6 separate regions of the Homo sapiens genome follow, and all the other regions are reported to be linked to region 6. The links are microRNA targets in miRTarBase. Many come from high-throughput screens and were not tested one by one. Region 6 holds a microRNA gene; each other region holds the end of a gene's coding sequence.

The links. The annotated mature microRNA hsa-miR-6879-5p reads CAGGGCAGGGAAGGUGGGAGAG and lies in region 6 at 3,351-3,372, shown strand. An mRNA with a match to its seed (bases 2 to 7 or 8) in the 3' UTR can be bound and repressed. Matches are read on the target gene's strand: a 7mer-m8 pairs with bases 2 to 8, a 7mer-A1 pairs with bases 2 to 7 and ends in A, and an 8mer does both.
Region 1: miRTarBase lists AGO1 as a target of hsa-miR-6879-5p. Seed matches in the 3' UTR shown: 7mer-m8 at 1,952-1,958, 7mer-m8 at 2,180-2,186, 7mer-A1 at 2,355-2,361 and 7mer-m8 at 2,474-2,480.
Region 2: miRTarBase lists ALS2CL as a target of hsa-miR-6879-5p. Seed matches in the 3' UTR shown: 7mer-m8 at 4,601-4,607 and 8mer at 3,844-3,851.
Region 3: miRTarBase lists PRSS8 as a target of hsa-miR-6879-5p. Seed matches in the 3' UTR shown: 7mer-m8 at 1,624-1,630.
Region 4: miRTarBase lists YTHDF3 as a target of hsa-miR-6879-5p. Seed matches in the 3' UTR shown: 7mer-m8 at 2,352-2,358.
Region 5: miRTarBase lists DNM2 as a target of hsa-miR-6879-5p. Seed matches in the 3' UTR shown: 7mer-A1 at 1,853-1,859.

What each region holds. Positions count from the first base shown.
Region 1 is chr1:35,919,444-35,922,443 of GRCh38, forward strand. AGO1 (argonaute RISC component 1) reads left to right here. Exons shown (of 19, transcript NM_012199.5): 19 at 56-3,000. The coding sequence ends at 164. Among named protein-coding and RNA genes, the nearest start is that of AGO3, 10 kb to the right of the region's middle.
Region 2 is chr3:46,666,233-46,671,482 of GRCh38, forward strand. It overlaps ALS2CL (ALS2 C-terminal like), which reads right to left. Exons shown (of 26, transcript NM_147129.5): 26 at 2,763-4,832. The coding sequence ends at 4,752. Among named protein-coding and RNA genes, the nearest start is that of ALS2CL, 25 kb to the right of the region's middle.
Region 3 is chr16:31,128,011-31,133,260 of GRCh38, reverse strand. It overlaps PRSS8 (serine protease 8), which reads left to right. Exons shown (of 6, transcript NM_002773.5): 3 at 1-35; 4 at 308-579; 5 at 666-832; 6 at 926-1,828. The coding sequence ends at 1,252. It overlaps KAT8 (lysine acetyltransferase 8), which reads right to left. Exons shown (of 11, transcript NM_032188.3): 6 at 5,122-5,211; 7 at 3,104-3,244; 8 at 2,901-2,994; 9 at 2,655-2,805; 10 at 2,361-2,515; 11 at 1,902-2,066. The coding sequence ends at 2,002. Among named protein-coding and RNA genes, the nearest start is that of PRSS8, 5.1 kb to the left of the region's middle. RefSeq lists enhancers at 368-1,313, 2,262-3,209, 3,210-4,157.
Region 4 is chr8:63,209,229-63,212,228 of GRCh38, reverse strand. It overlaps YTHDF3 (YTH N6-methyladenosine RNA binding protein F3), which reads right to left. Exons shown (of 5, transcript NM_152758.6): 5 at 1-2,546. The coding sequence ends at 2,523. Among named protein-coding and RNA genes, the nearest start is that of YTHDF3, 42 kb to the right of the region's middle.
Region 5 is chr19:10,830,518-10,833,517 of GRCh38, reverse strand. DNM2 (dynamin 2) reads right to left here. Exons shown (of 21, transcript NM_001005361.3): 21 at 1,615-2,540. The coding sequence ends at 2,471. TMED1 (transmembrane p24 trafficking protein 1) reads left to right here. Exons shown (of 4, transcript NM_006858.4): 4 at 305-1,451. The coding sequence ends at 523. Among named protein-coding and RNA genes, the nearest start is that of MIR6793, 3.0 kb to the right of the region's middle.
Region 6 is chr11:65,015,160-65,020,409 of GRCh38, forward strand. It overlaps MIR6879 (microRNA 6879), which reads left to right and starts at 3,346; the gene lies at 3,346-3,411. It overlaps ARL2 (ARF like GTPase 2), which reads left to right. Exons shown (of 5, transcript NM_001667.4): 2 at 3,205-3,315; 3 at 3,412-3,574. It overlaps ARL2-SNX15 (ARL2-SNX15 readthrough (NMD candidate)), which reads left to right. Exons shown (of 11, transcript NR_037650.2): 2 at 3,205-3,315; 3 at 3,412-3,574.

The DNA of each region.
Region 1 (3,000 bases), not on the chromosome of region 6:
TTAGCAGCAGCTCTCAGTTCACCAGGAAGGACTTCTTTCATTTTTTCCTTTTCAGTGGAGAGGGGAGCCACATATCGGGGCAGAGCAATGGGCGGGACCCCCAGGCCCTGGCCAAAGCCGTGCAGGTTCACCAGGATACTCTGCGCACCATGTACTTCGCTTGAAGGCAGAACGCTGTTACCTCACTGGATAGAAGAAAGCTTTCCAAGCCCCAGGAGCTGTGCCACCCAAATCCAGAGGAAGCAAGGAGGAGGGAGGTGGGGTAGGGAGGAGTGTAGGATGCCTTGTTTCCTTCTATAGAGGTGGTGTAAGAGTGGGGAACAGGGCCAGCAAGACAGACCACCAGCCAGAAATCTCTGATATCAACCTCATGTCCCCCACCCCTCACCCCATCTTGTCACATCTGGCCCTGACCCCACTGGACCAAAAGGGGCAGCACTGGTGCCCACCATACACACAGGTGTCTCATGTGACTCACAGTGCTAAAGACTCATGCTTGACAGCTTGGTAAGGTCAACTCTGTAGCCCTGCAGACAAAAGCTGGTTAGGTTTGGGTTTGATACTTTAGATGGGAAAGTGAGGGGCTTGAGAAAGTGGGTGGGAGGAGGGAAGGATTTTTTAGGAGCCTTAATCAGAAAAGGACTAGATTTGTTTAAGAAGAAAAATGAAACCAGACCCAGATCAATATTTTAGGATACTAGATGTTTTAATGGGTTCAGAATCCAGTTTGTAGGAAGATTTTTTAATGGTTTTGGTTGCTCCTCCCCCAGCTGCCACCCCCCACCTTACCCTTATTCCTCTCTGTCCACATTTTCTGCCCCACCTTACTTCTCCTCCCTGACAGACATCCAGCCCCTAGTAATACTTAAGGCACTATGGCACTTAGCTTTGAAGTGACACGACCCTGTCTTCCTTCCGCCCGCTGGTGGGTAACCAGTGCCTTCCCTGTAACGGTAATGCTGCAGAACTGCAACCTTTTGTACCTTTCTTTGGGGAATGGGGTGGGGGTGGGAGAGGAGGTAGATGGGGAAGAAATACCCCAGACCCAACAAACCTCCAGCCAGAAAGCCAGCTATTTTGCATTTGAAGGAATTGACTTCCTCATTCATTGAGCTTTTTAAAAGATCACAACCTCAAGATGGTTAAAATCCATTGACATTTGCACTTTCAAACATGACAAGTCTCGGAGCTGCTGAGATGACAGGCCCCTGGCCTTTCCACTTATGCCTCCTTTTCTCCTTATTCCTCCTACCTCCCGCCCCGCCCAGGTCTGGAGTTACTTTCATAGCATTTTTCACTCTTGGCTTCTTTTCTCCCTTGATGGTCAAGTCTCTTATGTTTCAATATTTCTTAACTGGGGTGTCTTATAACAAAAAACTCTTAGGTCTAAAATGAGAAAAAAGAGAGAAAACAAAATGTTATTTTTATACCATAACTTGAGTGTATTGCCAAAATTTGGAAATCCTTCCCATGCCTGATGAGTTTATATCCCAGAAACATTGAGCCATCAGAATGAACTGTGTACCTGATTTGTTCTCTGACCTGGCTAGGTAGGGAGGGGGTGGTTATCGCCCCAAGATGGGGTCCAGGCTCCATCCTTCCTCTGTGCAGATAATACCTTTTTCTTGCTATAGCCTCCCTCCTCTGCACTGTCCTGCACTCTTTCTTGCAAGTGCATCTTTTTCCTTCCCCTGGACTGTCCTCTGACCCTTTGGCTCATCCTAGATTGCAGTGTGTCCTGTGGACAGGCTGGGGAATTTTGCTGCTCCCTATTGCTTCTGTTTACAAAAATGAATTTTTCCTGGTTTCCCACTAGGGCATGTGGGTGGGTGGCATGGACTTTTTTTTTTTTTTTTTTTTGTCTTGAGACATGGGGTTTGGCTGTCTTGCAGGACTGGAGAAGGTGGTGGTTCTAGCTTGGTCTCTGTTGGCCTTGAAGCAAGCATCCCCCCTGCCCTTTTTCCTTGACTGTTCATTTTTTTCCTGCCCCACTGCTTGGGATGGGGAGTTGCAACTTCAGTGTGGAATTTCCTCTTTGAGGAGCCTGGGCTTGGATCTATCCTGATCTGGTGATGAAGCCATGATTACTTTAGACCTAGCCCAGGCTTGGAGGCCAGCTGGAGGAAGAAGGGTCTAAATCCTGGCCTGTAGAGTTAGAACTACCATTTCCTCCCCTTAGCTGCCCTTGTATGACCCGGATTTGCTATGCAAAACAATCTATCCCAGGTTCTGTTCTGGTTGGCTACATTGTTCAGCAACTCACAAAACGTAGCACAAACATTCATTATGGAGAAAGCATCAGGACTGTTGAGTAACTCCTCCTTTACTTTTTTCCTGCTGGCTACAGCATGGGGTGCCCTATAGGCACAAGCCCAGCTGAAGAACAGAATGGAGGGCTCTGGGAGGAGGCAGCTCACTGGAGAGCCTACATTCCTTACACAAGTGCCTAAAGAGAGTGATGCTAACACTCCATCTGCCCTGTCCATTGCCTTCATATACAGTCTACTTCGTGTTCTGTCACCCTTTGGGGAGGGGAGTTCTCCTGGGACAGTGGGCTCTGCATGTTCTCCACTTGGATACATTTTGGGGCTAGGATCAGGGCACTATTCCTGGAGGGTCCAGTCATTCACCAGCATTTGCAAATGTCCATAGGGAGCAGGTGGCAGCCTCTACTCCCAGCAACAAGTTTGTGTTCTCTCCTTTTCTCTCTTTGCCTCACTCTCTCCAGTTGGTTTTCAGCTGGGGCTTGAAATGCATTTTTAGCCCTTTGACGTGGCTTATGCCATTCAAGAAATAAAAAGCAAGAGAATCAGCTTTGGGCAATGACAAGAAATGAGTTCTTACTCTGATTTTTTTGTAAAAAGATAATTTTTGAGACTTGAAAAATACCCCGACCTTGAGATTATTCCTGTTTGAAAGGTGGTGCATGCAGATGGAGAAGTGGTGTTGGCAGCAAGCTTTGGCTCATGTGGATTTGGTTTAAGTGGTGCTTCTTACCCA
Region 2 (5,250 bases), not on the chromosome of region 6:
GATCACTTTGGGAGAAACTTGCCTGTCTTGAAGGCAAGGAACAGGGACAGGTGGCCAAACACCTGGGCTCCAGCTCTGCACCTGGTAGTGCTGGAGTCGTGCAGTCACCCAGCTGGCACCTGGGCTCTGGTATGAGGCCGTGTGGGTCCAGTCCATCATAGCTACTCAGCCCCCTGTTTATTGGGGACAGAGTGTGTGTTTCTGCTTGCTCCTGAGGGCCTAGGTTTCCTGGGTTGTGACTCCTGGGGCTTTGGTCATGAGGAAGTTGAGATAAAGCCCATAAAGTGCTTAGCCCGCACGTGGGTCCTCTTCAGTGCATCCAGAGCCCAAGCGGCATCTCTTGCCTGCCCTTCACAGCAAAGGGTGCTCCTCATGGCAGAACAGGGTGTCTGGGCAGCTCCTTTGCTTACAGACAACAAACAGGACCCAGTTAGGAAAAGGACTTGGCCAAGGTCCCAGAGAGACCAAGACCTGGCAGCCTGGACCCCATCCCAGGTTCTCGCCCGCAGCAAGAGTAAACACCAGAGTACGTGTCTGTACAACCCTTGACAAAGCCAACCAGAAAAGCCCTGACCCGATCTGAGCTTGACCTTGACCCTCATTCTCACTCCAGTCCCTAAATCTAACTTGACACTGACCCTGACTTCAACCCTAATCCCTAATTGTATCCCTCACACTGACTTTAACCCAGACCCTCGCCTTATCCTTTCCCAGGTGCCCATAAGAGGGCAGCCCCTGTCCCCTGCTGGGCCCCAGTGGTCAGCCGTCCCTCTGGGAGAGTGACAGCTGAGGTCCTGGGGCCCTCCTTAGGGCCCTACTAGTGAGCATCTGCTTCACTCACACAGTGACACTAAGCACCTCTCCAGCAGCCCCTGGTCACCCCTCTGGCCTCAGCATCCCTCCAGCCTTCTCTGGAGCTGCAGTAGGCAAGGGGCATGCACAGTGGGCACCCTGCTCACGCACTGGCTCCAGCATCCTCGGGGGTGGTGTGAATGAACAGAGGCTTGGTCAGCACTCGGGTCCCTCAGATGCCTGCCAGCTCCCACTGTGGGGCAGCTGTTCCAGACCATACTCCAGACAGGGAACAGGGCTGCCATCCAGGAGGCCCCTGGGGAGGCTCGCTGACAAAGAAGTCAGCAGTCCCTTCAGAGGACTTCATGGGGCCATGCTGTGCCCTGGTCCCTTTCAGAACGCCCTCTCCATCCACCACTACCTCTGGGTCACTGGCTATAGCCTGGCCACGCCACTCTGTGGCTTTCCTGCAGCTGGAGCTCCAACCAAGCAGTAGGGCAGTGCCTGGAGGTGTCCTGCCACACTGGCATCATAGCTGCCTGGTGTGGGCACACGGCCCCAGGAGGGCCAGGCCTGAGCCTCTGGTGCCGTGTGTGACTATGGAGCAAGGCACAGAGGGTGTCCATCTTTTCTTCCCCTTCTCCTGAGGCATCAGCATCAACTTGCTGTCTACTCCTGGCCTGTGTTTGCCCGGGGCTCCATTTCCCTGGGGCCCGTCCATCCTGGACACACCAGAGGGGTTGTTTGCACGGATGCTTCTCCAGCCAGTCTGAGATGCTGACCTACTCTGGGGGTCAGGCCCTTCAGAGTCCAACCCCTCCCGTGTCAACCTGTATTCTGTCCTCGTCCCCAACTGCTGTGGAGCACAGGCCCCTGGCGAGGCGGCCTGCACTGTGCCCGGGGGAAGGATGGGAAGAAGACACCACAGAGGACTGTTGACTTTGGAGGCAAGAGAGCCCCCGCCAAAGCAATGAAACATGGGCCCAGGTCTGGAAAGGGGCTGTGAAGAGAGAAGCCTTCTTCCTAGGGGAACAGGGGCTTCATATGACCTAGGCCTGCAAGGATGGATCTGCCTAGGACCTAGTGGGACTGGAGGAGGGCATTTCTGCAAGAAAAGAGATGAGTGAGAGGGGCAGGAGCAGGAGGGCAGGGCAGAACAGGGTGGCAGATGGAGTTGACTGGTGAAGGGAGTAGTGGGCCTGGGGGAAGCAGGACTAGAGGTTGTATGATTGACTGCATGCAGGCCCGGGTGCAGTTGTGGGTGGGGCGGTTGTCCAGGGCCAGGGCTGCCGTCTAGGATAAGCAGGTGGTCCGGCTGTGCAACCTGGACACATCTGCTCACTGAAAAGGCCTTTGGCCCCTTGGGTATCTGTCATTCTCAGCCCCACGTCCTGGCCCCCGAGGGCAAGGCCAATGTGTTTGAGTCCCACTGTAGCCTGGGACTCAGCCCTTACAGGAGAGGAAACTGCCTGAGTCCGTGAATGGGCCGTGTCTCCCTGTGCCTCTCTCCACTCTGTCCCAGGTGATTGTGAAGTGCCATTTGGGATTATTAGGAAGAATCTTAGCACTTCCTCAAGATCACCACTGAAGAGAGAATCCTCATCCCGGGAAAGAGGTGGGAACTAGAATGGTGGAGGGACTGGAGCTAGGCCCTGCCAGGCTGCTCTGAACATCAGTGAGATCACTGAGGTGCTAGGGTCCCTGCTGGCCAACCCTGCCATCCAGAGACTGGGCACCAGCAGGCTCTCTGGGCAGCCAGGGGCTCCTGCAGCAGCTGGGAGAGGTCACCCTGGAATGTGGACTGGGTGGGTCTTCTGTGCATGAAGCACTCACTGCAGTGGTCAGGCTCATCTACAGCAAGGACTCCTGCCTGCCTGCCTGCTCTGTGGGTTTCGTTGTAAGGGTCTGATATAGCTCTGTCTGCCCTTGGACTCTTCCAGGACCCTTTTAAAACACTGCAGCCCCCTAGGCTCTGTCCAGATGCTCTTTTTTATTTATTTTATTTTTATTTTTATTTTTATTTTTGAGGCAGGGTTTCATTTTGTCACCCAGGATTGAGTGCAGAGGTGCGATCTCCGCTCACTGCAACCTCGACCCTCCAGGCTCAGGGATCTTCCCACCTCAGCCTCCCGAGTAGCTGGGACCACAGGCACACACCAACACACCCAGCTAATTATTTTATTTTGTATTTGTAGAGACAGGGTCTCACTATGTTGCCCAGGCTGGTCTTGAACTCTCAGTTTCCAGCAGCCTTCCTGCCTCAGCCTCCCAAAGTGAGCCACTGTGCCCAGCCAGAGGCTCCAGTTCCACTGGTGTTGGGTGAGGCCTAGTGAGAGGGTGGGCAGAGGGCCTTGTTGAATCTGAACTGCAGCAAGGGCTCGCAGATCTCAAAGGAGGCAGGGAAGTGTGCTGGGGTCCCGTCAGCATCGCATGAACTCAGGGATGGCTGCATTTGAGGCCAGGGTCAGGCTGTCCTCACTTATCAGGGGACAAGAGCTGGCTGATGCCGATTGGAAAGGATAGAATCCTAGTGAGCTGCCCCAGTCCCGGTAAGCATGAGTGCCTGCATATCCTCGCTCTTCCTCAGTTCCACCCCCTTCCTGGGGGTGTCACAGGCTCCTGGCAGAACCAGAGCCCATGCCCTGCATTTGGGCTGGCACATTTAGTGGAACCAGCCAGAGAAATGCTGTCCCTCCTTCCTGGGGAAGTGGTGGCAAACAGAGGCGCCAAGGCTCTCTCTGCCCACTGCCCACATCATCTCTGGGACTCTGCGGGTGCCCTCTGCCCCAAGGCTACTGCCAGGGACTCAGGTGTGGCTGGGCTTTCCAGAGCCTCCCTCAACCCTCCCCTCACAGGCTGAAGTCAGTACTTCGTTTGGGGGAGCCACACCCAGAGCCAGGAGCCTGACTTGCTCAGGGCCTAGGGAATGGGACCAAGAGTGATCCAGCTTCTTCTCCAGAGCTGCACCCTGCACAAATCCACCCTCTCCCTACGCTTTGCCCTGGACACTTTCAGAACACATCACACTGCCTGTCATCATGCATCTCCGGCTAGGGCAGAGGGAGACCGTGCACGTCACCCGGCACAATGTGACGGAAGATAAACTGTGTGGGGAAGAGAAACTGAGGCCCAACAGGAATAAAGCTGCCCCAAGACCCAGCTCCTGCCTCTCTTGGTCCCACACTAGAACCACTGTTTAAATAAAGTCCTCCCCTCCCAAAGGTACTCCTGCTCCCCAACTACAGCAGGGTCCTGGGTCCTGGGTCTGAGGGTTTATTGGTCAGGGCCCAGGCAGATGTCATGTGCCCCTGTTGTCCCCACGCAGGCCCACAGACATCACAGGAGAATGATTTACAAGCCACTTGGGGCCTGCTGGCAGTGAGGGTTTACCCACCCCCCGCCCCAGCTTGCTCCAGTGCCGCCGTTTACGTCATGGGTACGTGGCCTGCAGTTCACGGATCTCCAGGCCCATCCTGTTGACTGCATACCCAGTGAGGCTTCGAGCCTGCCAGAGGTCAATACAGCCCAGCAGACTAAAGTCAGTTTTCCAAAAGGACTCTGGAATTCAGCAAAATGAATGGAAGGTCCTTTACAGCGTACTCACTCCACCATTGTACAGATGGCAGCACTGAGGCCCGGAGAGGCTCTGGAACTTGGGAGAAAGGCTCAGGCTAAGAGAAGCCAGGGACTCCTCACCCCCAGCCTGTGAGCTGCTGCAGATTAAGGGGTCATTGAAGATGGGCTAGTGGCCAAGGGAAAACCACCACATCCAGGGCCACACCCGTCACCCCTCACCCTCATCCCAGTCAGGGCAGCAGCAGCATCTTCCTGTGCAAAACAAAATGCTCATCTCCTCCAAGAGCTGCTTCTGAGGGCCTGTCCTGCCCCTTGCCTTGGGTAATGAGGGACAGGCTGGCAGTGCCCTGCTCAGCTCTTCAGTCTGTCCAGGAAAGGCCAGGCTACCAGAGCTCCCTGGAGTGCCAGTGGCCAGGTAAGCGGTGCAGCCTCATGTCTTCTTTCTGGATGTGCTCGTAACAGGACTGGAGGGAGAGAGGCAAGGCTGAGGCCAGTTGACCTGCCTGATCCCAACCACATGCACAGGATCTAGGGCTCAATAGCTGTGTGCACCCACCTCCCAACCCAGAGGAGGCGTGTCTCCAACTCAGCCCTCAGCCACAGTCTGCGAGGAAAATGGGGCCCTTCCTCTCCCACTGTGCTTGGGAATGCAGCATGGAGCAATCATGGCCCCAGGGTCCCCAGGGCTGGGATGCACTGTGGGACCCCTCCCTGGCTCCTTTAATAAGAGCAGGATCAGGGACACTGTGAGGACCCTTCCCAGAGTCACACATGAGCTGTGAATTTGAGCTCCCTCCCACTATGGTGTTATGATGTCTGGGAAGGGAAAAGGGTCTGCCCCAGGGGCCAGGGCATTTCCACCTCGGTCCACAGCCCCTGTCC
Region 3 (5,250 bases), not on the chromosome of region 6:
CAGTGGGTGCTGTCAGCTGCTCACTGCTTCCCCAGGTACCAAATGGTGAAAGTCAAAAGTGGGCTGGAGGTCAAAGTTAATGGGTCAATCCAGGTCAGAGGTTGGGGTTCTTGGGTTGGGTCTGAGAGTGTCAGTTCTAAGTCTGGAAGGACCAGTTAGGAGTGAAGGTGAGGGGTCAGAGGTTACATGATAAAACTAAGGTGCAATTTGAGACCTAAAAGGGGCTGATCGGAATCAGGGGTTGGCAGTGGGGGTTGGGGAACAAGGAGAGGTCTCCTGGGTCTCAGCCTTTGCCCCCTGCCTGCAGCGAGCACCACAAGGAAGCCTATGAGGTCAAGCTGGGGGCCCACCAGCTAGACTCCTACTCCGAGGACGCCAAGGTCAGCACCCTGAAGGACATCATCCCCCACCCCAGCTACCTCCAGGAGGGCTCCCAGGGCGACATTGCACTCCTCCAACTCAGCAGACCCATCACCTTCTCCCGCTACATCCGGCCCATCTGCCTCCCTGCAGCCAACGCCTCCTTCCCCAACGGCCTCCACTGCACTGTCACTGGCTGGGGTCATGTGGCCCCCTCAGGTGAGGTGGGACGCTGGGTGCCTAGAGGTGTGGAGGGGCACCTGACTTGGGGAGGGGCCCAGGGTAAGCCTCTTTTACCCCCACAGTGAGCCTCCTGACGCCCAAGCCACTGCAGCAACTCGAGGTGCCTCTGATCAGTCGTGAGACGTGTAACTGCCTGTACAACATCGACGCCAAGCCTGAGGAGCCGCACTTTGTCCAAGAGGACATGGTGTGTGCTGGCTATGTGGAGGGGGGCAAGGACGCCTGCCAGGTAAGCACAGGCCCGGGGGGCAGATGACCAGTGCAACTTCGGAAAGGAGGCCTGGCCCGGTCCTGATGGCTGCTGTGTGGCTTCTCTCCTCAGGGTGACTCTGGGGGCCCACTCTCCTGCCCTGTGGAGGGTCTCTGGTACCTGACGGGCATTGTGAGCTGGGGAGATGCCTGTGGGGCCCGCAACAGGCCTGGTGTGTACACTCTGGCCTCCAGCTATGCCTCCTGGATCCAAAGCAAGGTGACAGAACTCCAGCCTCGTGTGGTGCCCCAAACCCAGGAGTCCCAGCCCGACAGCAACCTCTGTGGCAGCCACCTGGCCTTCAGCTCTGCCCCAGCCCAGGGCTTGCTGAGGCCCATCCTTTTCCTGCCTCTGGGCCTGGCTCTGGGCCTCCTCTCCCCATGGCTCAGCGAGCACTGAGCTGGCCCTACTTCCAGGATGGATGCATCACACTCAAGGACAGGAGCCTGGTCCTTCCCTGATGGCCTTTGGACCCAGGGCCTGACTTGAGCCACTCCTTCCTTCAGGACTCTGCGGGAGGCTGGGGCCCCATCTTGATCTTTGAGCCCATTCTTCTGGGTGTGCTTTTTGGGACCATCACTGAGAGTCAGGAGTTTTACTGCCTGTAGCAATGGCCAGAGCCTCTGGCCCCTCACCCACCATGGACCAGCCCATTGGCCGAGCTCCTGGGGAGCTCCTGGGACCCTTGGCTATGAAAATGAGCCCTGGCTCCCACCTGTTTCTGGAAGACTGCTCCCGGCCCGCCTGCCCAGACTGATGAGCACATCTCTCTGCCCTCTCCCTGTGTTCTGGGCTGGGGCCACCTTTGTGCAGCTTCGAGGACAGGAAAGGCCCCAATCTTGCCCACTGGCCGCTGAGCGCCCCCGAGCCCTGACTCCTGGACTCCGGAGGACTGAGCCCCCACCGGAACTGGGCTGGCGCTTGGATCTGGGGTGGGAGTAACAGGGCAGAAATGATTAAAATGTTTGAGCACAACTTGCCGTGCATGTGTGAAGTGAAATGAAGAACATCCGCTCTTGGCCTCCCCTTCCCCTCCAAAGTCCAGGGCCACCAGAACTGACTTTATTAAAAAAATGACAAAACAGGTCTATACATATTTACAGGCTGGGAGCCAGGAGGCTCAGGTCCGACAGCAGGGGCCAGGCTGCTCACTTCTTGGAGAGCTTGACTTGCTTGTGCTTGGGGGGTGCCCACTTGAGGCAGACGGAGTCCACTGTGGGGAGAAGGGGCGGGAGGCAGGGCTGGGCCTGGGCCAGGCCAGCTCACACCTGGCTGCCCTCCTCTGGGCTCAGGCCAGTTTCACCTCCTCCAGGTGAGAACAAAAGGGCAGGCTGTGCTGGGGAGGGGTAGGGAAGCCCAGGAATGAGAGGCCTGCCCCGGGCTCCATCCTGGGAGCTGGTCTGACTGGTTTGGGATCATGTGACAGCAATAAGGAGGCCTTGACTCCTACCAGTCCATATACTGACACTCCCCCACCGCCCCCGACACACAGCAGCCCCCCACCCACCTGTGATGGGTGGTTTCTTATACTGGGCACTTTTGAGGTGCTCCTCCACCAGCTTGGGTGTGACACAGATCACGTGCTGGCCCTTCCAGTACTTGACCATATTGAGGGATTGCAGGGTACTGATGATGTCATTTTGGGTGATACTGGTCATCTGGCTGCAAAAAGGGATGAGAGCAAATGCCAGACCTGGTGCCCTTGTGGGATCTGGCCAGGATGGTGACAGGGTATGAGGAAGCAGGATCGTGGCCCATCTCAGGGCAAGTCCTGCCCCCAGGGCCCGGGAGGCCCCCTCACCTGAGGTCCTTGATGGACAGTGTGCCCCGGAAGTCCCGCAGGATCTCTAGCAGCACCCAGGACCAGTAGCTGCGGTAGCTGAGCTTGCCCAGGTCAGACAGTGGCTTCTCCGGGGAGCCGACTGTGCTCTCCAGCTTGGAGAGCTCATAACCTGGCAGCAGTAGAAAGAGGAACTTAGGATCCAGCCTGCCCTGGCACCCCTGCCCCACAGGTCTCCCCCTCCCAGACAGGCCAGGAACCACTCACTGAAAGCGATGAGGAACTTCCCGTAGCCGCGGCGTTGGTAGGGGGGCAAGGTCAGGATGCAGGCCACATTGTTTCCATCCGGGGACTCCTTCTCCTGCAGGAGGCAGGTGCTCAGGGCCGCTGGGGAGGCTCTGCCCCACTCTCTGTTCATGCCCACCTTCGCCCTCCCCACCCTCCCCACCCCGAGTTTCCAGACCCAGCACCTTGGAGAAGTAGCCAACAATGTGGGCCCCCTGCCGGTCCACCTCAGTCAGGATGTAAAAGACGAACGGCTCCACGTCAAAGTACAGTGTCTTATGGTCCAGGAAAAGCTTGGCCAGCAGACACAGGTTCTGACAGTAAATCTAGGGTTGAGGAGGGGGGAGACAGGCTCAGGGGGCAGGCACAGGCCCCACCCAGCTGGTTCCAGCGGCCGGCACCAGCCCACGCGAAGTGGGCGCCTCGCCAGGCCAGAAGGATTTCACACTGGAAGGAGTCTTCGGTCAGCCTCTGACGAACAGGGAACTGGAAATGAGAGAGCAACAGCACTTCGGAGGTGCCAGTGGAGCTGGATGAAGCCCGGCCACCCCTTCTGAGTGCCAAATACGAGCTGGGTGCCTTCCATGCAGGATCTGCTTCAGTCTTCACAGACATTAACTCTGTTTCAGCTCGTGAAACTGAGGCTCCGAGGCAGGAATTTAGACCGTCCTGTTCATGGCTGTGTCCCCAGCGCCTAGCACGAGTCTAAGTATGAAGCTGGGTGCCTGGTAAACGTCTGCTGAATGGAGGAACCTCGAGCCCTGTCTGTCCACTTGGCTGCACTCCAGGAGGGGGACAATGGGACCGAGTTTGGCTTCACGGCACACACTAAGGGGCTCCCTGGTTTATGACACCACAGCCACTCTCTCATCCAACCCGGCAGCTGTGCGAGCCCAGCACTGCCAGGCCCATCTTACTCAGGAGGAAGCTGAAGCTCCCAGAGTGGAAGTGCTTGCCCAGAGCCTCAAAGCTGGCAGAGCGCAGTTGGAAAGCACCCCCACATCTCCAGCGGGGGCCCTTCTGCTATTCCACACAGCCATGCTCAGGAAGGCAGAGCAGGGGCAAGGGCTGGGCTCAGCCTGCGTATTCTCCGAGTCCAAGGCTAATCAAGCCCCAAGAGGTCACCGATAATAACAAGGCCCGTGTTTATTAAGCACATACTAGTGCTAAGCACTGCACTAAACACTTGACATTTGCTGTCTCATTTATTCCACTAACAACACAACTAGGTAAATATTAAATATTATGACTCCCGTCTTATGGACAAGGAAACAGGAACAAACCATGTTAAGTAACTTGTCTGTGGTCAGTGAGGAAGTGACAAGGCAACATGAGCCACCCTGAAGCCTGCCCTCTCTGTCCTGTGCTGTATGGCCCATCTGCGGGAAACCAGTACACTTGGCCAGACCCTCCCAGACTGATAAGGCAAAGGCCAAGTTCTCTACAACAGCTAGGCAGGTCCCAAAGGCCCCAACCTGCCCTGCTGAAGTCATTCGGGGCCAGGAACAAGGAACTCAAACCTTGAAAGCCACAGAGCTCTCTCAGGAGGAAATTTCACACAAAGCAGTCCCCTCCCAGGCAAAAACAAACACCTTTCTTTCCAACGGAAGGAGAGAGCACTTCTAAAAGCAGCCTCAGGCAAGAAAATCTCCTCTGGGTTCCAGAACAACCCAAGTTTGAACCTAACCCCACCAGCAGAAGAGTCTTGGGGCCACCACAAGGCCCTGTGTTTCCTATGCACCAACTACAGGCCTAGTGCCAGGCTAGGAGGCCCTCAGAGGCCTTCTTTTTTTTTTTTGAGACAGATTCTCAATCTGACGACCAGGCTGGAGTACAGTGGCACAATCTCAGCTCACTGCAACCTCTGCCTCCCAGGTTCAAGCAATTCTTGTGCCTCAGCCTCCCGAGTAGCTGGGATTACAGGTGCGCACCACCACGCCAGCTAATTTTTTGTATTTTTAGTCGAGGAGTTTCGTCATGTTACCCAGGCTGCTCTCAAACTCCTGAGCTCAGGCAATCTGCCCACCTCAGCCTCCAAAAGTGCTAGGATTACAGGTGTGAGCTGCAGTGCCCGGCCCCTCAGAGGCATTCTGCCCATAGAGGCTCAGCTAAGGCTGCCCCCTCCCCTTTGGTGGTGATGAGGATCATCTGGGAGGTGCCCAGGGCCTCCCCGGCCTCTCCCAACCCCTGGCCACCCACTCACCTTATGGTCTTTGCCATCAACTTCGTACACGGAGATGTTGCTCTTGCGGTAGATCTCTTTCCCGGGGGGCTGCCGCCACTGGCACTGACCCTGGTCGGGGACAAGAGAACAGGTTCGCTGCCCATATGT
Region 4 (3,000 bases), not on the chromosome of region 6:
TATACAAACTATAATACCTTTCAAAATAAAATACCCACATAAGATAGCTTTAATAAGAAATATTCAAGCCAGAACTTGGAAAAACATTAAGCAAGAAATTTACTGGGCTGATAATGTCTTAATTTGTGATCATTCAAACATTTGATGATGTGTCTCCTCTTGTAGACCCCAGGCTCTCTCCCTTTTGGTCCCCACAGTTAAGAGACATTCAGTTGGTTGTGCTTGAGACAACCTGTGATAATTTCATTCAGAGGAAAAATATTTTGCAATATAATGACAGACCAAGAAGGAAGAGAAGGTGGGTGCTCTGGAGAAAACTTATATGAGAAAAACACAAAATTATCACTTGAAAATAAAAAGATTTTTTTTTCCAAAGGAATGCTGCACCCATTTCACTTAAGATTAGAAATCCAGGTTAAAGGCACTGGGATGTACTCCTCACCATGAATAGACTCTCAATTACATTTATTCGCATGTCTGAGTCTATTGCAATCAGCCTGCTTGCTGAGTGCTTCCATGACACTCTTACATAAAAACCTAATGTAAATTAAACATGTTTGAAACCGTTTATAATGTAACTAGTTTTATAAAAATATCCAGAGTTGCTAATAAAGCACCAAGAAAAAGAGAACCTCAGGGGGAGGACTCAGATCCTTCCTACAAGGTCACCCTTTTATAATATTCTCTAATAGGACCTCCAGAATGACAACAGTCATCTTTGACATGTCCTACCTAGATAATCTTAGGGATGTAGAACATTGCTGTGGTGACTATACCCAAATGCCACTTTTCATTATAAATAGTTAAGAGACATGTTACAAGATTTCATGGCTTACTCTTAAAAAGGTAAAATAGGTGCAATTTTCCTTTAAGAAAGTCTTTATTTTATAATATACCATTAATATTTTGATGTTCCCTTCAGTAAACACTGATATAACTACACTGGGACTACCGAAGAACTGTGTAGTAGCTATGGTTATCTACAAATACTGTATTTTTTTCACTTGAATACAGTATTTGCACATTTAAAAAAAACATTGTACAAAATAAAATTATATAAATGAAAGCCTCAAAGAAATATCCATCACTAGGTCTTTGAGCTGAAGTGACCAAAGACCACAGTAAATGAAAACATTTCTAAACATGATGTAAACATAAATGAAGTAATGCAAAACATCAAGGTATTCAAATCTACTGTATTGCTATTTTCACCCTTAATGTATCTTTCTACATAGCTTTCTCCTTTTGGAACAGTAATACATGGGGCAGTACATTATTTTCATAACCTTATGCCATCAAATCAATTAATACAGATGCTTGACACATTTAATTATACAAAATCAATTTGCTTCAAGATACAAAATTAATGTTGATATGTAATTAATGAAAAAAATAAGATGTTAAAAAGATAACTATAAGAATATCCAGATATATGCTGTATTCCCACTTATATAGATCTGATCAATAAAACATCAACACATTCACTTAGATACTGATTTAATCCATGGATCAAGGCCATATTTTCAAAGTATTTTAAGGATGCCAGGACACTGCAAAAGCTGGAGAAAAGAGCTGAGGAACAACATATGCTTGCTAAACAAGAACTATGTTTATTTAGCTAGTGAATACCTAGAGTAATAAATTTTTACTTCATGATAGCAATCAGGCTCGCAAACACCCAGAAATAGGAATTAAGGGTTTTAAATGTAGTTATAAAGGTCATAAAAAGTCTGATTAGACTGAGGTACATTTACTCAAAATTTTGAGATTCATTAAGTGGTAGCAAACAAAATAATTCCTCAGACAAATGCACATTTTTCAGTATACATATTAATGGGGGGAGGAGGGAAGAAGAATGTGCATTAACTGGTGAAATCCACCAAGCTGCATATCAATATTCTGTTACACCAAACAGTTTGAAGACAAGGGAAATGTTCTAATATAATTTCAGATTATGTTTCATTTGGCTAAAATAGAGCTTAAGGTTGCTTTGCCATATTAAAAGTTTACTACAATAATTTTTCACATCAACATTTAGACTTGAACTCCAGGACTAAATATGGCATGATTATTTTGCTTTTAATCTGTCAAATAGCTAAAAATCGACAATTTAAAAACTACAACAAAGAAAAAGTTGAAGCAGTGTGACTCTTACATCATTGAACCACTTCTAATGGTTAACTGTTAGTATTTAACAAATTCAAAGAGTTAATGAATCCTTGCATTCATTCAGTCTTCTGTGCCTTAGCTAGGATGCATAATTACAAAAGACAGCAGATACTGGTAAAAGCTTCAGGACAGAAAGTGCTTGACGAAGTTACAGTTCTCAAGTGTGTTTGGTGAAGAGTATAAGGGCAGATGCGCTGATGAAAACCATTACGAGAAGAGTCAACTTTGTGTTAAAGTGTTCAAAGATGTCACCTTAAGCAGAAAAGAGCTTTAATACGTCTTCTTTGACTTATTAGGCATTTCCAGAGTCTACATCGTTAGTGTTGTAAATTTAACAGGACATCTTCATACGGTTATTGTTTGTTTCTATTTCTCTCCTGAAAAAAAAAAAACACACACACACAAAAAGAATTACAATGAAAAACTCTCATTATTTAAAGATTTAAACTATATGCACATATAATGTAAATCATCTCCATATAAAGTTCAAGTACTAATTCAAGTAATTAAAAACAATTGATAATTACCTCTATATACCATAGTGAGATTATTACCACAAAACATTTTACATAAAGAACTCTCAAACACAAAGACCTATTTCAGGAGAGTATAGATCCTCTCCACATCCCTATTGTTTGTTTATGATGAGAATATAATAACATCTTTTCAGTCCTTTCAAAGAGTTTTTCATCTTGAGGTGTCAAACAGACTAAAAGCTATTGGCTGAGGTAGGGGCAGGAGAAAAAGGTTAAAAGTTACATTAAATTGCAGTACAATTGCATTCAATGAAGATTTCAGACTAATAAAAAAAACTTTAAATCACAAAGAGAG
Region 5 (3,000 bases), not on the chromosome of region 6:
AGTGCTAGGATTATAGGCATGAGCCACCATGCTCATCCTTGTACATTTATTTAGGCATTAAATGTTCACAGCAATTTGGAAGCTTATAGAAGAGGAAACAGGCTCAGATAGGTTAATTAAGTTGCTCATGGTCACAGCCAGTGAGTGGCAGGGTGAGGATTTGAACTTAGCCTGAACAAGTCTGTGTTTGCAGCTGTACCTCCCAGGGTTAATACAGCCTCCCTCCGTATCCCCCGGTTTTTTTGGTCTCTGCTCCCTGATGGGTGGAGGGAGGCCTGACCCTTCCCCTCCCGCTGCCCTGTAGGAGTCCATTGAGACCATGCGGACCCGGCTGGAGCGCAGCATCCAGATGCTCACGCTACTGCGGGCCTTCGAGGCACGTGACCGCAACCTGCAAGAGGGCAACTTGGAGCGGGTCAACTTCTGGTCAGCTGTCAACGTGGCGGTGCTGCTGCTGGTGGCTGTGCTGCAGGTCTGCACGCTCAAGCGCTTCTTCCAGGACAAGCGCCCGGTGCCCACGTAGCCCCTGCCATGGAAGGAAGAACGGGACAAAGGAGGGGCAGCAGGGTGTGTGCATATGAGACTTGGGGGTCCCTCCCCAATTTTAGTTTCCTGCCAAAACGGGAGTGTGCAGTCAGGGCCTGCGGTCTGGCCCCATGAGTCTCCTTCCGTCCTCAGCGGGCAGGGAACACCTCTGGCTTGTAGAAGGGACGGCTCAGTGGCTGCACCGACGGTCCTGGAAATCTCACATGGTGGGCACTGCAGCGTTGGAACGTGAGCCTCGGATTTCCTGGCCCCTCTACTGTAAATGTGCCTTAGCCTAAGCCTCCCATCCTGTGTTAGCGTTGCCTGGTGCGGGGCAGGGCCTAACAAGGAAACCTGGGCCCTCCAAGCCAGGTTGAGGTCTGGTAACAGAATGCCAGGAAGGGGGCCTGGAAGACCACCTGCCCCGGCCCCTCTCCTGCAGGGGCCCCACACAGGCATGAGGGATGGCCCGGCCAAAGTCTAGGCAGAAGCCTCCTATAACAAAGGGTGGTGTGGCCTGGGCATTGGAGTCAATAAATTATGGTCAGAAAATCACAAGAGCCTGCTGATTGGGGCTCAGGGACACCAGCCAGGACAGACCGGCCCCCGAGGGGGCAGCCAGACAGGTGGGAGGGGCCTCCCACGAAGCTCAGAAGAAAGGTCGTGCGGGAGCCGATGGAGGTGGTCGCCTGGCACAAGAGAAAAATCAGAAAGCAAAGTTTAACTGAGCCCCAGTTGGGCCACGAGGCTTGGGCTTCCCCACGAGGTGAGAGAAGCAGGGCCTGAGGGTAGGAAGGGGGTGGAGCGCTGGGGTCCCCGCTTCACCAGGCAGCAGCCAGGCCTGTGCACGTGGGGGTGTGCAGGGGGTCAGAGAATATCTGCTCCCACTCCTCACATGCTAAGGAAAGTAAAAGCTCTCCCCTGTATCGAGTGGCTTCCTCTGAAAGGTGACACCCCCGAAAGCAGAGCCCTCAGGGAGATGGGAGGCACTTATGAGTGCAGGGACTTGGGCATCCTTATGGGAGGCCTGATGGAGGTGGCACCCATGTCCCCAGCCTGAACACTAACACAAGAGGCCCACACAGCAGCCACCAGCAGCGTCTTCCCTTTATTTTAGTTTATTAATAGAATACAGAGTGCAGGCACTTACAGTGGTCAAACTGAGCGAGGAGTGGGTGAGGTCTCCTCAGAGAGAGGCCGCCCTGGGCCCACCCATCAGGGAGGCATGGGCGGGAGCTGAGAGGCCCCCAAGACCCCCCGCCACCACCACCCACATAGCCCAAGCCCAGCCACCCTGGGGGACCCAGGAGGAGGAGGAGGAGAGGAATAGGGCAAGGCCGGCCCGGGCCAACGGCTCCGGGCCTAGCAAAGGCACCTCTGGCAGCCGAGGCTGGGCCAGGCTCAGGCTGTGTGGTTAATATGGCCGGGAAGGACTATGTACACCTCAGGCCTGCCAGCTGGGCACTACCGAGCCCACTGGGCCAGGCTTGCCGCTGGGGAGCTCCTGCTAATGGGAAGTTGATATACCCCTGCACCCCAGCAAGGCCTGGGGATGTAGGCGCCCTTGGTGCCCGCACTTATAGAAGGCCTGCCCTACATGGGCTTTCCCAGCCCAAGAAGACCTTGGTAGAGTCCCCCCCAGGCTGGACCCCTCATTCAGGATGGTGTCAAGGGTTCTGGTCCCCCCTCTGCCACCCTGAGACTCCATCCCCCAAAGTGCAACACCCCAGCGCCCCCTGCCTGGAGCTCCAGGGCCCCTTTGCGCAGTGCGGTGTCCAGCCAGGCACAGGGGCCGGCCCTGGACCGGGGCCAGCGTTAAGGAAGAGGCCAGGGCTGCCCACTGGGAGCCTGGTCCCAGCATAGGGGCGGCGGAGGGCCCCAGACCACTGAAGCTCCTGCGCCGCGGGTGCGTGAGGCCCCCCCGAGAGCACGCCCCCCTCGAGGCCTAGTCGAGCAGGGATGGCTCGGCTGGGCGGATAATGGTGGGCCGGCTGGGCGCAGCAGGGGGTCTTCTGCTGCAAAGAGAATAAAGACAGGTGGGGAGGGGGAGACGGCAGTGAGGCCGGGAGCAAGAGGCAGGCCTGGGTTGAGGACCCAGCCCCCACCCACACACCACCCCAGGGTGTTCCCAGGCTGACCTCCGCAAGCCACCAGGGTGTCGGGCAGGAGTGCCAAACCTAGGCATCAACTCGCCTGCTGTTTGACCCTCAGTGAGCCCCCTGCCCTCCCTGGGCCTCAGCTTCCCCACCGGAGAAGTGGGGAGAATAAAGCCTGGCCCACGGTAGGTTGAGGCAGGCAGGAGCAGGAAGGAGAAGAAGGTAAACAGTGGGAGGAGGTGCCCAGTGTGAGGGTTCCCCAGCTGCCTGGTGGCACACCCCAGTAGGCAGAGGGCAAGCTGGGAGCCCCGGAGTCACCAGGGCTCCGCTACTCTGTGACACTGAACAAGCCTCTTGGCCTCTCTGGGCCTGTTTCCTC
Region 6 (5,250 bases):
CTGGAGTGCAGTGGCACAATCTCAGCTCGCTGCAACCTCCGCCCCCCGAGTTCAAGCAATTCTCCTGCCTCAGCCTCCCAAGTAGCTGGGATTACAGGTGCCCGCCACCACGCCCGGCTATTTTTTTAAATATTGTTAGTAGAGACGGGGTTTCACCTTGTTGGTCAGGCTGTTCTCGAATTCCTGACCTCAAGTGATCCACCCGCCTTGGCCTCCCAAACTGTTGGGATTATGGGCGTGAGCCACTGCGCCGGGCCGCATGTCTGCTTTAAAGAGCTCTAAGAAAAGCATACAGTTCACTCATTTGATAAATATTGAGTGCCTAATATGTGCTAGACACTGTCCTAGTGCCCAGGGTAATAAAACTAAAAAATCTTACCTTCATGGAAATTCTGTAATGCGTGTGTGTGTGTGTGGCGGGGGGGTTGCCCGCGGGTAGAAAGATGATAACACAGGAAGTAAGTAAAATATGTAATAGAGGCTGGGTGCGGTGGCACACACCTGTAACCCTAGCACTTTGGGAGGCTGAGGTGGGAGGTTCGCTTGAGCCCAGGTGTTTGAGACCAGCCTGGGCAACATAGTGAGACTCTGTCTCTATTTATACATATATATATTCTCCATACATACTATATATATATGGGCCATGCTTTGGACCATGCTTCTGGGGAACAGGGCCTTATACTGCTCCAGGATGAACTCCCACTACGTATATAGGTATGGAGAATAATGCAATTTAGGGTGGTCAAAGAAGGCCACTGTATGATGGCAGGGCGCAGTGGCTCATGCCTGTAATCCCAGCACTTTGAAAGGCCGGGGCGGATGGATCGCCTGATGTCAGGAGTTTTGAGACCAGTCTGGCCAACATGGTGAAATCCCGTCTCTACTGAAAATACAAAAATTAGCTGGATGTGGTGGTGGACACCTTTAATCCCAGCTACCTGGGAGGCTGAGGCAAGAGAATTGCCAGAACCCGGGAGGCGGAGACTGCAGTGAGCTGAGATCACGCCATTGCAGTCCAGCCTGGGTGACAAGAGCGAAACTCTGTTAAAAAAAAAAAAAATGACAATTGAGTACATGAGGGAGGCGAGGGTTGAACCATATAGCAATTCGGGGGGGGGGGAAACTTTAAAGCAAAGGGAACAGCAAGTCAGAGGCCCTGGGAGGACTAACTGGCGTGTTCAGAGGACTGGTGAGGAGGGCAGTATGGCTGGAGTGGGGAGGAGGAGCGTTGACTGGGAACCCCCTCACCTAGGGCCTTTTGGTTTTTGGTTTTCCCTTTCAGTGAGAAGTGCAGTGGAGAGAAGGAATCGCAGACCAGTTAGGCCACTGCAGTGACGCAGGCGAGATAGGATGGTGGCTTGGACCAGGATGGAAGTAGTGAGGTCATGGAAGTTTCTGGCCTGAGCAATTAGAAGGGTGAGGAACCATTTGCTGAGATGGAGAGGACTGGGGGAGGAGCAGGTTCAGGGTGGAGATGAGAACCCTGTGTGTGCCTGTGTGTGCCATGTGAGATGCCTCCGAGACAGCCCAGAAGTGTCAGGCAGGCAGCTGGATGTAGGCACTGAGGTCCAGTGTGTGGGAGGTGCACATTTGGGTGTTATCAGGATAGAGATGGTATTTGAAGCTGTGATCCTGGATGAGGTCACCCAGGGATGAGCGTGGCCAGAGAAGAGAACCCGGTTGTACCAGGATGAAGTCAGGTGAGGAGCAGAACCAGGTGAGGGTGTGTCCCAGTGCCAAGGGCAGCGCATGTGCTGGGGAGGAGGGTGAGCCACTCCATCAGGTGCTGAGTGGGGAACAGAAGATGACTGAGCGCTGTCCCAGCACTAGAGGGCCACAGGGAGGTCTTTGGGGACTGACCTTGGTAAGGACAGTTTTGGCCACAGCAGCAGCAAAAGCCTGATGGGAGTGTGTTCTTGAAAGAGCAAGAAGGCAGAAATGGGGGTGAGCACAAACAACTATTTTGAGATTTCCTGTAAAAGGAAAGATATAAATGAATAACTAGATGGGGCAGAGAGATCAAGGGCTTTGTTTGCTCTTTTTTTTTTTTTAATCAGACGGGGTCTCGCTGAGTCGCCCAGGCTGGAGTACAGTGGTGTGATCTCGGCTCATTGCAACCTCTGCCTGCCGGGTTCAAGCAATTCTCCTGTCTCAGCCTCCCGAGTAGCTGGGACTATAGGGGCCCGCCACCACGCCTGGCTGATTTTTGTAGTTTTAGTAGAGATGGGGTTTCACCTTGTTGGTCAGGCTGGTTTCGAACTCCTGACCTCAGATGATCCACCCACCTTGGCCTCCCAAAGTGCTGGGATTACAGGTGTGAGCCACCGCGCCCGGCCTATTTGCTCTTTTTAAGGTGGGAGAAAGAACGGCAAGCTCATCAGCCAGTGGGAATGATCAAGAGGGGAAGGAAACATGGATGATGGCTTGGGGGCAGGGGGTCATCAGCGGCTAGGTTCCAGGGGCTAAGGCTGGGCCTCAGGGGAAATGCCCTCCTCACCCCTCTCCTGGGCCTAGGTCATTTGCCCCAGCTCCGATGAGCAGGGAAAGGTGGTCGAGTCCAGGACCCGCCCACCCCACCATGCCCAACTGAGCTGCAGTGTTGGGAAGATAGAGGAGGGTGGTTCCTTCCACAGGTAAGCACACCCATTAATTTGCACTGTGCAGTAGCAGGTCTGGAATATTCCAGAAACAAATGAGGGTGGCTGCCTCCAGATATTTGTTCTTACCTTAGTTCTTCAAAAAGCTTGCTCCTTGTATTTTGGGTCTCAGCTCCAGACACCTCAGAGAGGCCTTCCCCGGCACCTGAGCTGAAAGAGCCTCCTCCGATGGCCCTCTTGGAAAGCCTCTCTGTTGTGTTGATGGCGCTAGCCGGGATCTGGCAGGGCCTTCTTTTCTCATTTGTTTGTACTTTATTGACTGTCTTCCCGCTAGAGTGTAAGCTTCCTAAGGGCAGGGCTTTGTCCTCTAGCACCCAGAAGAGGGTCTGGCACATAGTAGGTGTTCAACAAATTAAGGAGCCTTTGGTCAGTAGAGATGATATTTATAATTTGATACTTTCATATTTATTGTGGGCCGATTATGGTCAGGCATGTGCTCAACTCAGTTTGATACATGGTGGGAAATAATGAGTCCCCTAAGGGGCTCTGCAACAATGTCACCACCTGGCAGAGAACAGGGACTTCTCCTTAACCTGCTGCGCCCCAGTGGCCTGGACAATGCTGGAAAGACAACCATCCTGAAGAAGTTCAATGGGGAGGACATCGACACCATCTCCCCAACGCTGGGCTTCAACATCAAGACCCTGGAGCACCGAGGGTGAGCAGGGGCCCCATGGGAGGGCCAGCCCAGAGCAGGGCAGGGAAGGTGGGAGAGGGGCCCAGCTGACCCTCCTGTCACCCGCTCCTTGCCCAGATTCAAGCTGAACATCTGGGATGTGGGTGGCCAGAAGTCCCTGCGGTCCTACTGGCGGAACTACTTTGAGAGCACCGATGGCCTCATCTGGGTAGTGGACAGCGCAGACCGCCAGCGCATGCAGGACTGCCAGCGGGAGCTCCAGAGCCTGCTGGTGGAGGAGGTGGGCAGCTCCTACCCTTTGTGTACATGTATGGACGTGTGGCTGCCTTCTCAGCAGATGCCCAGAGGGGCCCGTGGCCCCAGAGGGAAACCAGAGGCAGGATCCCTTCCTTCTCTGGGCCCCCACCATGGGAGGCCCATGGTGCCAGAGGCAGGACACATGCTGTGGACTGAGATTGAGTTAACGTCCCTGTGGTGTTACTACGTCACTACCCTGAGCATCAGTTTCTATGCCTTGAAATGGTGATGATGACACCCACATCACTGGGCTTTAGGGAGGATAACCCAAGGCCAGTATGAAGCTTCGAGAGGCCATGGAGCCTGGCTCAAGAGTCTGACTCTTTGCTGTGTGACCTCAGCTGGGGGTGGTGGCACGCACCTATAGTCCTAGCTACTCTGGAGGCTCAGACAGGAGGATCAGTTGAGCCCAGGAGGTTGAGGCTGCAGTGAGCTGTGATCGTGCCACTGCACTCCAGCCTCCTGGGCGACAGAGCAAGACCCTGTCTCAAAAAAAAAAAAAAAGGAAGGGGCCAGGTGCGGTGGCTCACGCCTGTAATCCCAGCACTTTGGGAGGCTGAAGCGGGCGGATCACGAGGTCAGGAGATCGAGACCGTCCTGGCTAACATGGTGAAACCCCGTGTCTACTAAAAATACAAAAAATTAGCCAGGCATGGTGGCGGGCGCCTGTAGTCCCAGCTACTCAGGAGGCTGAGGCAGGAAAATGGCGTGAACCTGGGAGGCGGAGCTTGCAGTGAGCCGAGATTGTGCCACTGCACTCCAGCCTGGGCAACAGAGTGAGACTCCGTCTCAAAAAAAAAAAAGAAGGACACTTGCAAAGATAGTACAGAGGTCAGAGGTCCCCCATATACCCTTTACCTTGCTTCCCCATCTTACCTAACCGTGGCCTGTCCAAACTAATAAATCAACACTGGTGAATTACTATTATCTTAATTACAGATTTTATTTGAATTTCACGTTTTTCCACTAATATACTTTTTGTGTTCCAATGTTTGATTCAGGCTACAAAATTGCATTTAGTTGAAAATGAGGACACTTGTGAGAGTGAAAGGGGGGATTCTGCAGGCAGAGTGGGGACTGTCCTGGGCACACCGCACACATCTCCTATGTGGGTGGAGCAGGTCAGATGAGATCAGGGCCGTCAAATGCTGGTCAAGGCAGGTCAAGGCCCAAGGGTTAGACCCGTCCACCCACATCTCTCCCAATCACAGACACATATGTGGAAACAACTAGAATCAGAGGTGGACAGTGAGGCCTGTCGGGAGTGGAACGGTTAAAGGGCTGTGTGAACCCAGAAGAGGGAGAGTTCACATCCTCTGTGCATGTCTGGTCATCAGATTGGAGCAGTCTAGAACCACGGAGAGCTCAGGGATCATCTTATGCAACACCCCTCCCTGTTCATGGAAGAGGAAGCTGGAGCATGGGGACAGCGGTGTCCCCTGGGTGGTGGTTGGCTGGAACCAGAACCCTGGCCCAGGGCTGCTCCATTCATGTGGGCCAGCCTTGATGGCTACGTCCACAAACTCACTCCTGGGCCTCTCCCACCACCACGGGGCCTCACCTTGATCTTCCAGGTCGATCCTTCACCCCAGATGCTCTGGGCCATTAGAGGAGGGGTCAGGCTGTCCTCTGAGTCCCCACCCCACCCCTCTATCTTTT